Homo sapiens: one gene and its partner. The protein of the gene in region 1 purifies or fractionates together with the protein of each later gene. This does not show direct contact. Each region holds a gene or a part of one and is shown in the gene's direction. Other genes may lie near its edges.

Evidence for each region. The genes of interacting proteins can lie anywhere in the genome.
Region 2: the proteins of APOOL (region 1) and MTX2 purify together in Homo sapiens (affinity purification with mass spectrometry; 2 studies listed by BioGRID and IntAct, with this or other methods). This does not show direct contact.

The regions. Positions count from the first base shown.
Region 1 is NC_000023.11:85,069,061-85,078,467, forward strand, and holds part of APOOL (MICOS complex subunit MIC27 precursor), read left to right. Parts: intron 1-4,937; coding exon 4,938-5,051; intron 5,052-5,213; coding exon 5,214-5,331; coding exon of another isoform or gene 5,332-5,340; intron 5,341-9,407. UniProt on the Homo sapiens protein: Component of the MICOS complex, a large protein complex of the mitochondrial inner membrane that plays crucial roles in the maintenance of crista junctions, inner membrane architecture, and formation of contact sites to the outer membrane.
Region 2 is NC_000002.12:176,334,379-176,339,869, forward strand, and holds the end of MTX2 (metaxin-2), read left to right. Parts: intron 1-3,114; coding exon 3,115-3,286; 3' UTR 3,287-3,647; downstream 3,648-5,491. UniProt on the Homo sapiens protein: Involved in transport of proteins into the mitochondrion.

The DNA.
Region 1 (9,407 bases):
TTAATTTTTAAATGTTCTTCTAGGGTAAATAATAATTGTTACTTTAATTCTTAGAGTTGAAATCCTTGCTTTTCTTTTGACTATAATAATATCAAGTAATATTTTACAAATTCAAATATATGATTTTTTTTTAACCTGAGATCCATGATGGACTTTAGAGAGTCTATAGCACACCCTCCTATCCAAAACTTTATGAAAAGTCACGTATGTACAAGAAAAACCTTCTTATTTGACATAATCAGGACCAGTAGTTAACAATTAATCAAAAATGTTAAAGCAGCGAGTTGTAAAAATATATATAAAAATGTATACCCACAATTTTACTTGAAATTAAAACATAAATGTCTTTCTTCGGCATGACCAATGTGTTGAAACCCCGTCTCTAGTAAAAATACAAAAATTAGCCAGGCCTGGTGGCAGGCGCCTGCAATTCCATCTACTCAGGAGGCTGAGGCACGAGAATCACATGAACCCAGGTGGCGGAGATTGCAGTGAGCCGAGATTGCACCACTGCACTCCAGCCTGGGTGACAGAGTGAGACGCCATCTCTAAAAAAAAAAAAAAAAAAAAAAAAAAATCTTTCCTTTTTCTCTATTTTGAAGTAGGGCTTTTCTTTGAGTATTGGTCTCCTGGTTAAAGATCTATAACATCTTTCCAACAGTAAGCCATATCTGTAGTATGTCTTCTACAATTTCCAGATTAGGTTCTTTTAAAATAGAATGAACAGTTAAAAACATTAAAAAAAATTGAGTGCAGAATCCTTTTAGATGTTTATTTCTCCCAGCTGTTATAATTGTCTTGCTCACCTCTAATTTCATAGCAGTTATTTTTTTAGCCATTCACATTTGAGTCTTTACGAAGCATTTAACTTAATTTTCCTAGAAACAATAATTCTTTTTAAACTCATATTTTATCATATTAAGTTACATTTAGACTGTTTAATTATAAGTAAAACTGATGCAGCAACTTGGGGAAAAAAGGAACTTAATAAGCATACTAATCAACTTGTGAAAGATAGTACCTTAGCATATTGGAGAGCACCTGATAGGGATGAATATTCAACATTCTACAAACATCATTTATAATAAATTAAAAAAACATTTTATTAATCAGTCAAGTCTCCTAAAAGAATGTCAGGTGAGAGCTTTTTAGTGTATCTGTGTTTTTCTGAAGGAAAGGGCCTATAGCTTTTAAGAGCTTCTCCAAGGTATCTGTGATATTAAAAAGTTTAAGAAATGATAAGTCTAGAAGGTCCTTTGAAAAACAAAAGACTCACTCCAGTTACTCATCATTTTGAAAATAGACTTCAAGATGGAATTACTCTTCGCTTTTTATAATTTTCCTCACAATATTTTTATTATTAACTTATGTAAAGAGTAGCAAGTAGTCTGTCTTTGAAAGCTATGAAATATCTAGGAATAGACTTACCAAATAATGTTTTAACGCCTGTTTAAAAGAAAAATAAACTATCAAACTTTACTGAAGGGTATTTTTAAATTTTCACAATATTTAATTGATGAATAAAGATTGAATATATTCAAGGTGTACAACATGATGATTTGACATACATATACATTGTGTAATGATTATTACAATCAAATTAACATATCCATCACCACCCATGCAGCACATTATATACCCAGAACTTGTTCATCTTATGACTGAAAGTTTGTACCCTTTGACCAACATCTCATTTACCTCACTGCTATCCCCTGGCAACCTCCATTCTACTCTCTGCTTCTATTCTGCGTATATGTCCAAAAAAAAAAAAAATGAAATCAGTATCTTGAAGAGATATATGCACCTCCATGTTCATTGCAGCATTATTCACAATAGTCAAGATTAGAAACAACCTAAGTGTCTCTCAGTAGATAAAGGGATAAAGATAATTTGGTACATATATACTACAACAGACTGCTATTTAACCATTAAAAACGGAAATTCTGCCATTTGCAATGGCATGGATAACCCAGAGGACATTATACTCAGTGAAATAAGATAGACACAGAAAGACAAATACTGTTTGATCTCACTTATATGTGAAGGATATTTAACAAAAAATCTTGAATGTCTTTGGGCATATATCCTGTTTCTCGATGAAAGACTAAATGTTGAAATACGGCGAGTATTTCAAAGTCTAGAAATTTAATTCAGTTCTTACAAAAGCTCTGGATTTGAATGGAGTGTGACATTCATTCATCTAGTATTTGTTGTCTGTCTACTGTGTATTGGTTACTATAGTATACACAATAAAATAGATCAAGAGGACAAAAGAGAATATCCAAACAATTATATTGAGTATATTTTTGTACACATGAGGGTAGGGGATTGATACGTGGTACAGGTGGCATTTCAGATCAGTGTGTAATGGAAAGGATGGATTTTTTTTTTCCAAGAAATATGTTGGGATAATTGGCTGTTTGTAGAATTACTCAGACCTTTACCAACTATCATGGGAAAACTAATTCTAGGTGGAATACAGATCTAATCATAAACTAGAATACTATAAAAGGTATGAGAAGAAATAAGAGGAATACCTGTTTAATCTTGAGATAGGAACAGCTTTCTTAAGCAAAATACAATCTAGAAGCCATTAAAGAAAAAGTTGACATATTTGACTACATCAAAATTAATACATTTCTGTAGATTACAATATACCATACACAAAGTTAATGGATACATGAAAAACTTGGAAAACTATTTGTAACATATATGACAAAGTACTAATATCCTTCATGTATTAAGAACTCCTGGCCAGGCGTGGTGGCTCATGCCTGTAATCCCAGCACTTTGGGAAGCCGAGGCAGACGGATCACGAGGTCAGGAGATCGAGACCATCCTGGCTAACACGGTGAAACCCCGTCTCTACTAAAAATACAAAAAATTAGCCGGGCATGGTGGCGTGGGTATGGTGGCGTGCGCCTGTAGTCCCAGCTACTCGGGAAGCTGAGACAGGAGAATGGGCATGAATCTGGGAGGCGGAGCTTGCAGTGAGCTGAGATCACGCCACTGTACTCCAGCCTGGGTGACAGAGAGAGACTCCGTCTCAAAAAAAACAAACAAAAAAAAGAACTCCTATAAATCAATGAGCAAAAGATGAATGTGCCCTCTGGGAAAATGAAAAAAGCAGTCTACAAAATAAGAAACATAAATGGCCTAATATATGTAAGATACTTGATTTCATCAACAAATAAATGCAAATTTGAAAAATCATTTAGATATTGGTTTTTAGCCTTTAAATTTGACAAAGATTTAAAAGACTTATAATATCACTGCTGGTAAATAGGGTAGGAAAACAGACATATACTCTTGGTGGTAGTGTAAATTGCTGCAGTATATTGCTGACTTTCTGGAGAGCAACATGGTAATACTGTCAAAAATTAATATGTGTATACGCTTCAGTGCAGAAATTTCAGCTCTAGGAATTTATCCTGAGGAAATACTATAAGGGTTATGGTCCCAGTTGTATGTATAAGGATGCTAATTTCATCATTGCTTATACTTGCCATCTCCCTACCCCCAAAAAGGAAAACAGCCCATATGCTCACCAACGGGATTTGTTAAATCATCGTGCCTCAATAGGGAATTTGTTAAACAAATTGTGGTGCATACATTATAGAATGCTAAACTAAGCAGCAAATTTAAAAAGTAGATCTACGGTATATAAAGTAATATAGAACCGTGCCTTTGAAATACTGTCAAGCTTTTAAAAAAATCATATCTCAGAATAATATGTGTACTGTGATCTCAAGTATTTGAAAAGGAAAACAAACTAAATACATATGTAATTTATTTTAAAATTTAATTGAAAACATAATTGAGATTGTATTGTATAATCTATTCTGTAACTTTTTCAAATTAGTGGTTCATCATGGACTTCCATTCATGCCAGTACATATAGATCTACTTCATCTTTTTTGAAAGATCTGTAAATATTAATATTACATTTGTTTTAAAATTTGTGTATATATAATGTATAGATGAGTAAAAATTGAGGAAGGATATATGTATAACTGTTAACAAAGGTTATATTTGGGGAGGAAGAGGAATTTCTTTATATTAGTATATTACTTAACTTTTCAACTGTAGGTATATACTTAGTAAAAACAATAAAAATATTTCTATTTGAGGATGGAAACATAATTTTTAAAAAATTTATGTTTGTAGAAATTATAATCCTGAAAAATACCTCAAAACATCTTCAAAACTTGAAAAATCAATGGCTGTTGAAATTACTTTAACTAAAATGAACAAAAGCATTGGAGAAGAATAGGAAAAAGAAGAAATCAGAAGTAGATTTTCAAAGAGAAATAGAGATGAATGAAAATAACGGTAACTTTAGGAATTCAGCCAGCATCCTGGCCTCTGCTTGAGTATATTTATCAGTCATTGTTTATTTTACCTTTCTACCAAAAAAGAATATTATTCTTTGGAGGAATTAGTTGATGCCTTTTATTTCTTTATGAATGGAGAAAGCACCATCAAATTTTAAGCAAAAGCATTAACTTTGTAGCATGTTAAAAATCTCATTTTCTCAGTCAGCAGTTTATTATCTCAAACTATATTCCCCAAACTCCTGTTAATAGACACAGTTTTCACTTATATCAAATCACCGTGTTATATACCTTAAATAGATACAATTTTATATATGTCAATCTAATCTCACTAAAGCTGAAAAAAATTAAAAAAATAGACATAGTTTTAAATTTATGTTACAATGTGAATGCAGATTATACATTTCTTATAACCTTTGCATGACACAAAAAATTTTTCATATAAGATTTTAGAAATGGTGCTTTGTGTTATATGATTTAGAGATTTATATCTTTATTGATTCTGACTTGAGTGTTCATATAAAATACCTGACAAATCTAAAATACATTTTTAATTTTAACTTTTAAAAATATGTTATTTGACTTACTTTTTGTTTTAATTAGGTAACAGCAAAAAAGGTATATGCTACAAGCCAGCAAATTTTTGGAGCAGTTAAATCATTGTGGACAAAAAGCAGCAAAGAAGAGTCACTCCCTAAACCTAAAGAAAAAACTAAGGTAGAGTTTACATGGAGCAAGACGGTCAACATTGAGTTTTGTTTGGGTGGGTGTTGGCTTGTAATGAGGGTACTGGACAGAGGTCGAGGATAAAATGAGAAAGTAGATGAAGGAAATAGTAAAATGATTTACTTATGAAGGAAAAATCTGTTTGGTAAACAGCTAGGATCCTCTTCCGAAATAGAAGTACCTGCAAAAACAACTCACGTCTTGAAACACTCAGTGCCCTTGCCAACAGAACTCAGCTCTGAAGCAAAGACCAAATCAGAATCCACTTCAGGTTTGTTGGGTATAAGTCAATTTTGTTTTCATTCTTTTCTTAAATAATTTGATAGCATTATCATTAGTGGTTTGAACTTAAGATGTGTTCTCCCCATAAATATTTTGTCTTTCTCATATCTGTGGTTTCTGTTTCTTTTTAGGTTATGAGGTACTTAAGTATCTGCAATTGCTTTAAATTATCACATAGTTCATAATATAGATCTTTTAATGTGAGTATATAGAGTAACACTGACAGGTTGATTAGGTGAAGCATTTAATATAACTTTATAAATTTGAGCTATTAGGTGGGGGAAAATGGGCCTTTCTAGATTCTGTAATTTTAAAGGGATGAGTCACACCTACATAAAGAAATGTCAGCTTCCATTTTTTGTGCTATTTACCTATCAGTCTCCCTGTCAATCTTAAGACTTTTATTTTTATTAAGTTTAGTTTTACTAAGTTTAGGCACCAAAAGAACTTTCAGCATCAAATATTAGAAATATTATCCATTATAATACTTATAACATTGCTAGTATTCCATACTGGCAATAAACACTTTGTGGGACCAAGCAGTGACAATTATACTTTCTAAACAAATACTGCTGTGATTTTACTGTGATCAAAAAGAAGGTGACAAAGTGTTTAATACCATTTTGACAATGTATTCATATTGATTTGCATAGGTTTATCTATATAGATACCTATATAGATATCTATATAATTACAATGTGAATTATAAAACCCGCTAAGTTGTCTTATTGCAAAGGAAGGTGGCTAATTCAGCGGTTGGGGAATAATAATAATATGCACCCTTTATCGAGCACATACTGTGATGCAGAGAGCTAGAAGTATATTATGTTATTCAGCCCTTACCCACAAAGCAAAACAAAAACCTCTGCTGGATCGGTAATTATTCCCATTTTATGATGAAGAGACTGAGACTCAGGGAGCTAAAATAAGTTGCCCCAAATCATATAGCTTGTGAGTAGCAGAGTTCTGTTTATGGCCTAGATCTTCTTGACATCAAAGTCTAAGTTCTTTCCATTGTCTATAGATTATCTAATTTAAAACTGGAAGTTAGTCTCTAATTTCAGCCTCCTCCTCTCACTTAATCTTCATAAAAACTGTCATTGAATAACAAACATGATATGAGTTTTACTATTTTCCTCTGTCCTCTCTCTTTTCTAATCAAGAGGAGCTATACAGTTTTTAGACTCTGAATAATCTACCAGTGACCATATTCTCACAAGAATATAATGTATGGTCATTTTTCCACATGCCTTTTAATTCCAGAGTATCTTTATGAAGATGAAACATACTACAGCTTAACAGTGGGACCAAAACCTTTCCAAGCTAATGTCTTTTCCTCACACATCTAGATTCTGGAACCCTTTATTTGCCTGTCTTGGGTGATGTGGTATATGAAAAGCATTCTATGGAGACAATGCAGAGGGAGAAAGAGATGCCAGTGCTACTTACTCATTCTTATCATAGATGTCTTGGTCAGTTTGAGCTGCTGTAAAAAATACCATAGACTGGGTGGCTTATAAACAACAGAAATTTATTTCTCACAGTTCTAGAGACTGAAATTCTGAGATCAGGGTGCCAACATGGTCAGGTTCTGGTGAAGACCCTCTTCTGGCTTGTAGACAGCCTACTTCTCATTGTATTCTCACATGGCAGAGAAGAGAGGGAAGCAGGCTCTCTCAAGATTCATAAGGGCACTACTGATCCCATTCACAAAGGCTGTACCCTCATCACTTCCTCTAATTCTAACCACTTCCTAAAGCTCTCCATCTCCTAATACCATCACAATGGGGGAGATAGGGTCTCAACATGTGAATTTTGGGGGGACACCAACACGCAGTACATAACAATATATCATTTGGCGTTTATTATACAGTATAACCTTGGGATTCACCATTTCCACGTTTCATATGTAGAATAAAACATTTTTTTTTTTTTGGCCATGAGAAACAGTAGTGATTGTGAGCACAGGTTATAGAATAAGACTTGAATCGAAATCCCAGATCCAGCATTTACTAGTTCTGTTACCTGGGGCAAGTTATCAAACACCTCAAGCCTCAGTCTCCTCATTCAACAAAAAGGGGACAATAATAGTTCTCACATGGTTGTGAGGATTAAGTGAGATATTGCATGTAAAGCACTAACTGTAATGCCAGGGACATACTAAGGGGTATCAGTGGATATTAAAATATATCATTATTATTATTTGCCTAGAGCAGTTAGCCATTTTGATGAGAAACAGATTTTCATTGAGCATACTTAAAGAGCAAGTCACTTACCTAGTGAGCCTAGCCATGGCTATAACTTATCACCATACAGAACAGGTAGGGTGTACTGTCCAACTATATGTTGTGGCTCTGAATATGAGTTTGGTTGTTCTCTACCATCTCATGTACATTAATGGAGAAAATTGCTATTTTGGGAATCACAAATTTAGAATTTGGTGTCATAGACCTCTTCAAGAATCTGATGAAAGCAGAATGAAATCTCTCACAGTCTTGCAAGATTAATGTCCCTCTAAAGCAGAAGTTGACAAACTATGGCCTGTATGCCAACTCTGACTATGTTTTTTTTTAGGTGATAAATTTGCTAAACTTATATATATATATATATATATACGTATATATATGTATGTATATATATACGTATATGTATATACACGTATATATATATATACATATATATATATATATACACACACATATATATATATTTTTTTAATTATACTTTAAGTTCTAGGGTACATGTGCACAACATGCAGGTTTGTTACATAGGTATACATGTGCCATTGTTGGTTTGCTGCACCCATTAACTCATCATTTACGTGAGGTATTTCTCCTAATGCTATCCCTCCTCCTGCCCCCCACCCCACAACAGGCCCCTGTGTATGATGTTCCCCACCCTGTGTACAAGTGTTCTCATTGTTCAATTCCCACCTATGAGTGAGGATATACGGTGTTTGGTTTTCTGTCCTTTTGATAGTCTGCTCAGAATGATGGTTTCCAGCTTCATCCATGTCCCTGCAAAGGACATGAACTCATCCTTTTTTATGGCTGCATAGTATTCCATGGTGTATATGTGCCACATTTTCTTAATCCAGTCTATCATTGATGGACATTTGGGTTGGTTCCATGTTTTTGCTATTGTGAATAGTGCCACAATAAACATATGTGTACATGTGTGTTTATAGTAGCATGATTTATAATCCTTTGGGTATATACCCAGTAATGGGATGGCTGGGTCAAATGGTATTTCTAGCTCTAGATCCTTGAGGAATCGCCACACTCTCTTCCAGAATGGTTGAACTAATTTACACTCCCACCAACAGTGTAAAAGCATTCCTATTTCTCCACATCCTCTCCAGCATCTGTTTTTTCTTGACTTTTTAATGATCACCATTCTAACTGGTGTGAGATGGTATCTCATTGTGGTTTTGATTTGCAGTGATGATGAGCATTTTTTCATGTGTCTGTTGACTGCATAAATGTCTTCTTTTGAGAAGTGTCTGTTCATATCCTTTACCCACTTTTTGATGGGGTTGTTTTTTTCTTGTAAATTTGTTTAAGTTCTTTGTAGATTCTGGATATTAACCCTTTGTCAGATGGGTAGATTGCAAAAATTTTCTCCCATTCTGTAGGTTGCCTGTTCACTCTGATGGTAGTTTCTTTTGCTGTGAAGAAGCTCTTTAGTTTAATTAGATCCCATTTGTCAATTTTGGCTTTTGTTGCCATTGCTTTTGGTGTTTTAGTCATGAAGTCCTTGCCCATGCCTATGTCCTGAATGGTATTGCCTAAGTTTTATTCTAGGGTTTTTATGGTTTTAAGTCTAACATTTAAGTCTTTAATCCATCTTGAATTAATTTTTGTATAAGGTGTAAGGAAGGGATCCAGTTTCAGCTTTCTACATATGACTAGCCAGTTTTCCCAGCACCATTTATTAAATAGGGAATCCTTTCCCCATTTCTTGTTTTTGTCAGGTTTGTCAAAGATCAGATGGTTGTAGATGTGTGGTGTTACTTCTGAGGTGTCTGTTCTGTTCCATTGGTCTATCTCTCTGTTTTGGTACCAG
Region 2 (5,491 bases), on another chromosome or scaffold:
TCTTAAGAAATATGTTTAAGGATGTGGAAGAATTGGTGTTTGTATTATTCTCACCAAGTGCCTCAGCTCAGCTCCCCATTTATCCACTCTACATCCTTGGTTTTTTGCAGGGATCTATTCATTATTGGTTCATTCCTGTGATGATAAGATTATGGTGCTGTTGAGTCTAAGGACCCTTGAGATTTTTTTTTTTAAAACTATACTGTTGGCTACCCATTTAAACATGGCCATAGATTGCACATTTGACTTTGATTAACACTTCATGAATGTCAAAAGAGTGGAAGGCTTTCAAAGAATGTAAGTTACTACTATTGAGAAAATTAAATATTCCACACATCTTAGGATGCTTTCTTTTTTAATTCATGTATTTATTCGGCAAGTGCTACTTCAGTTCCTTAGATACTGTGCTAAGAACTGGGAATATAAAGATATATACAGCATTGCCTTTGAAGAGCTTGGAGTGTAGTGAGGGAAACAGTTAAGTGAACACAGTTATAATATGGTATGAGAAGTGTGTCACCTTTTTATTGGTTCATTCAACACAAATTTATTGCACAATTCCTGCTTTGTGCAAGGAATTGTTCTAGGTATTGGGGTTACAGCAGGAACCAAGTAGGTGAGGTCCTTTCTCTACAGGACTTTCTGGTAGAGGAGATGCACAATAAGCAAAAAAAAAATTATATGGTATTAATTATCAAATGTAGAATTAAAAAAGGACCACATGATAAGGAGTGACTACATGTCCACTTTAATTTGAGTGGTCTGAGGAGACTTTAAGATGTGCCATTTAAACCTTATTCTAAAAAATAAGGAGCCAGTGTGAAGTCAGAGGAAGAGTATTTTAGGCAGCAGGAATAGTTATAGTCAAGGTTCCCTAATTGGCTTGAGTTTGTTACGTTCAAATGCAAGAAACAAGGCCAGTTTGGGTTGTATGCTATGAATGGTAGGATATGAGGCTAAAGAGGCAGGCAGAGGCCAGATTATCAAGGCTCTGTGTGCTTAGTGTAAGGAGTTTGGCATTTTAGTATAAGTAGAACAGAAATCCATTAGAATATTTTGTGCTTGGAGTTGGTATGATCTGCTGACATTAGTCATTCTGACCATGGTATGGAGAATGAGTAGAAGCAGTAAGACACTTTAGGAGGCTATCTCAGTGGTCTAGGTGACAGATGATGGTAGGTTACACTGTGAAATCATAATGAAGAATAAGTGGTGGCATTCAGGGCATATTTTGGAGGTAGTGTCTCACCAGACTTGCTAATGGATATAGGAGGGTGAAAGAAAGAACTCAAGAGTAGCCCCTAAATTTTTGGCCTGAACAGCTGGTTGGATAGTGGTGCCTTTTATTTTGGGAAGTTTGGGGGACAAGCAGGTTTGGGATACTGTAAATTACTGCTATTGAGAAAATAAAGTATCCCACACATCTTAGTCAAGATGCTCCACATCCTGCTCCACAGATACTCCACATTGAAGTGGAGATGTTATGTAGGCATTTGAATGTATGAATCCAGAGCTCAGGGGAGACATTAGGACCAGAGATAAATATTTAGGAGTCAGTGGCATCAAGATGGTATTTAAAGCCATGCATCTCTAGGAGACTACTTATCAATAGGGTTCAAGGCCACATAGCTAGTAAGTGATAGTATTGGAGTTCAAATTTGGATTTTTACCAACCCCCAAATTTATTCTGCCAAACCAGATTACTGCAACATATTTTCACATTTATGTAGGCTAGCACATATTTTCTCAAAAACTTTATCACTGTGGGACACAGTAATAATTAGCTCGTAATTATGATGACATTTTCTTGTTTTAGTAATAGTGCATTAGTAATTATTTTAATATAATGTAAATTGGTGATGCCCCATTTATAGATCATTAGTAGTGGGGTAGATTTCATTTTGTTGTTAGTAATATATAATTACAGAGAAAAAAATTCCTAGAAATTTTTATGTTGAAGCCATCCTTATGATTTTGTCTCCTTCAGAAATCTAAGTTACTTTAAATGTGGTAAAATTAAAGTTGTGTCTTGTTGTTGATTTGTGATTGGGTATCATTTTTTTGGTCCTATCACCACAGCGAAATCCTTTGTGCTTTGACAGCATTTTGTTTATGCATCTATTAAAACACTTAATAAATTGTATTTATTAAAACAACTTTATAATTTATGTTTCATGTACATGTCTTAGAGTATTTTTCTTGTTTTTATGTCTAGCATTTGGTATGGTTTCTGGCACATTGGAGATCTGCTATATTTAGTGAGAAAAGTAATGAATTAAATGAATATGATCATTACATCTATATTATTTTAACACACCTAAATGTTGTTACTAAAGAAAGCAAGTCACACAACTAGCAAATCATATTTTTTTTCCATATAGCAGAAACTCCAAGAAAAGTTATATCAAGTTGTGGTAGGATTTGTTTCTTACGTGGCTTTTTTCTTTTAAGTTGATGAATAAAATGATTTTAAAAAACATATCCACGGGGGTCTTTCAAGTATCCACAGGACATTTGTTCCGGGACCCCCACAGATACTAAAATCTGCAGAGTTCAAGTCTCTTATATAAAATGGCATAATTGCTTACGTAAACTTAATGTATTGAGAAAGAAAGAAAAAATGGTGCAGTGTTTGCATGTAATCTATGTACATCCGTATATTTTAAATCATCTTTGGATTACTTATAGTACCCAATACACACAATCTAAATGATATGCAGTAGTGTGATCTCAGCTCACTGCAACCTCCACCTCCCGGGCTTAAGCCATTCTACCACCTCAGCCTCCCGTGTAGCTAGGACTATAGCCAAGCACCACCATGCCTGGCTAATTTTTGTATTTTTTGTAGAGATGAGGTTTTGCCACATTGTTCAGGCTGGTTGTGAATTCCTGAGTTCAAACAGTCCGCCCACCTCAGCCTCCCAAAGTGCTGGGATTACAGGCATGAGCCACCATGCTTGGCCTATATTGTTATTTCTAATCTTTTAAAATATTTTGGATCTGAGGTTAGTTGAACCTACGAGTATGGGACCTGTGGGTGAAGAGGGCCAACTGTGTTTTCTATTGTAAAAGTTAAATGCTACTTACTCACATTACTCTCATTTCTACTTTTAGGCCTACTGAACTTGACGCACTGGTATTTGGCCATCTATACACCATTCTTACCACACAATTGACAAATGATGAACTTTCTGAGAAGGTGAAAAACTATAGCAACCTCCTTGCTTTCTGTAGGAGAATTGAACAGCACTATTTTGAAGATCGTGGTAAAGGCAGGCTGTCATAGAGTTATGTGTTAGTCTCAGGAGTCTTAACTTTTGAAATATGTTTTACTTGAATGTTACATTAGATATTGGTGTCAGAATTTTAAAACCAAATTACTGCTTTTTGAAACCTCAAATTATATAATGTATCTTATGTATGTGCTTTATATTGTTATTTGTGTATACATTAAAATAATTCTGAATTATTTAATCTGATATGTTGTATTCTGTATCTTGAAATTTTTGTTTCCTTGAAACATGCATGCATTTAAAAATAAAGCTTAAACAACTGTATGGATGTTACATTTACTTTCTTTTGATTTTTCTGAAAGTCATTCACTGAATTTTACACATGTGGAATAAACAGTGTCTTTTCTAAGGCAAGTAATTTGTGTTACATACTCCCAAGATTCCCTTGCTAGTTACATGGTGAAGCAGATAATGGGAATAAACGTTCTTAACAAGTGTGCACTTAGAAAATATGGATGGTTTTAAGGTAATTAAATTTTGGTGCAGATTTGACATTTAAGAACATTCTTTATATAGAGACTTAATTAAAAAACATTTCATCAGAGCAGCTGTGATTTACATTTGATAAAGGAAAAGTTTGAGGAACCTTTTTTTTTGAGACAAGAACATTTTAATAATGCTCTTTTATTCCTTTGTGGGGAAGGGAAGATAGTTTTCACAAAAGTATTAACAGGAATTTTTATGTAAACACTAAGGATTATATGTTGTGTCCTTTCCAAATTTTCTCATAGTTTATATCTTATAAAACCAGGGATGCTCTGAAGAGACAGACGTAAAAAATGATTTCTTAAAAATGTCTAGAATAATAGTACTTTTATATTTTCTTTTTATGTACCAGGGAATTTTAACTTATTTAATCCTTATAAAAATAGGATGGCTTTGCAGACACTGCTACCATCTGGAGGCGCCTGCCATCAGCCATTATCAGCTCCATGTTCTCCCACATAGCTGCCAAGTAGGAGTTCCGCATCTCCTTTGGGCTGTTTGCAGGCAAAGTTCCAAAGACAGCAGAAAACTTTTGTGTCCTGAGCACTGGAGAGAAAGGGTTTGGTTTAAGAGTTCTTGCTTTCACAGAATTATTCCAGAGTTTATATGCCAGGGTGGTGACTTCATGCCATAATGGCACTGGTGGCATGACCATCTGTGGGGAAAAATCCGATGATGTGAACTTCATCCTGAAGCATACAGGTCCTAGCATCTTGCCCATGGCAAATGCTGGACCCAACACAAATGGTTTCCAATTTTTTATCTGTAGTGCCAAGACTGAAGGCTTAGATAGTAGGCATGTGGTCTTGGGAAAAGGTGAGAGAGAGGGTATGAGTGTCATGGAAGCCATGGAATACTTTGGGTCCAAGAATGGCAAGATGAGCAAGAAGATCACCATTGCCAACTGTGGACAACTCTAATAAATTTGAATTTTGTGTTATCTTAACTACCAGACTATTCCTTCTGTAGCTCAGGAGAGCAACCTTCCACTCTACGTGTTTGCAATATCCCATAATCTTTGTGCTCTCACTGTAGTACTTTGGGTTCCATATTTTCCTTATTCCCTTCTACATCTAGCTAGATTGAATGGTTAATTTTATGATTATAAAATAAAAACTTGACAACAAAGACAAAACACCATGAAGGTTATTATTCCCAGTTTACAGATGAGGAAATGGAGACACAAAAAATACCTTGTCCAAGGTCATAAAGTTGGTAAATGGTAGAGTTGGAATTCACACCCATGAGTCATGGCATCAGTTTGGCTTTTTTTTTAAAGTTTTTTTTTTTTTTTTTTTTTTTTTTTCTGGGGGACAAGGTCTCACTGTCACCCAAGCTGGTGTGCAGTGGCATGCTCATGACTAATTGCAGCCTTGACCTTCCTCCGGGCTCAGTTGATCCTCCTCCCTCAGCCTCCATGTAGCTGGGAGTCCAGGTCTGCCACCATGCCTAATTTTTGTATTTTTTTGTAGAAATGAGATTGCACCATGTTGCCCAGGCTGTTGTGGAACTCCTGGGCTCAAGTGCTCCACCCACCTCGGCCTCCCAAGGCTCCTACCTGTGTTGGGATTACAGGCATGAACCATGGTGCCTGGCCGAGTTTGGCTTCTCATCACCATGCTTTTTTTTTTTTTTTTTTTTTTTAAGATAGAGATTTATACCATGTAAAGGATACATTAGGTTTGCCTTCGTGTAAATCCCATGTAAACTTT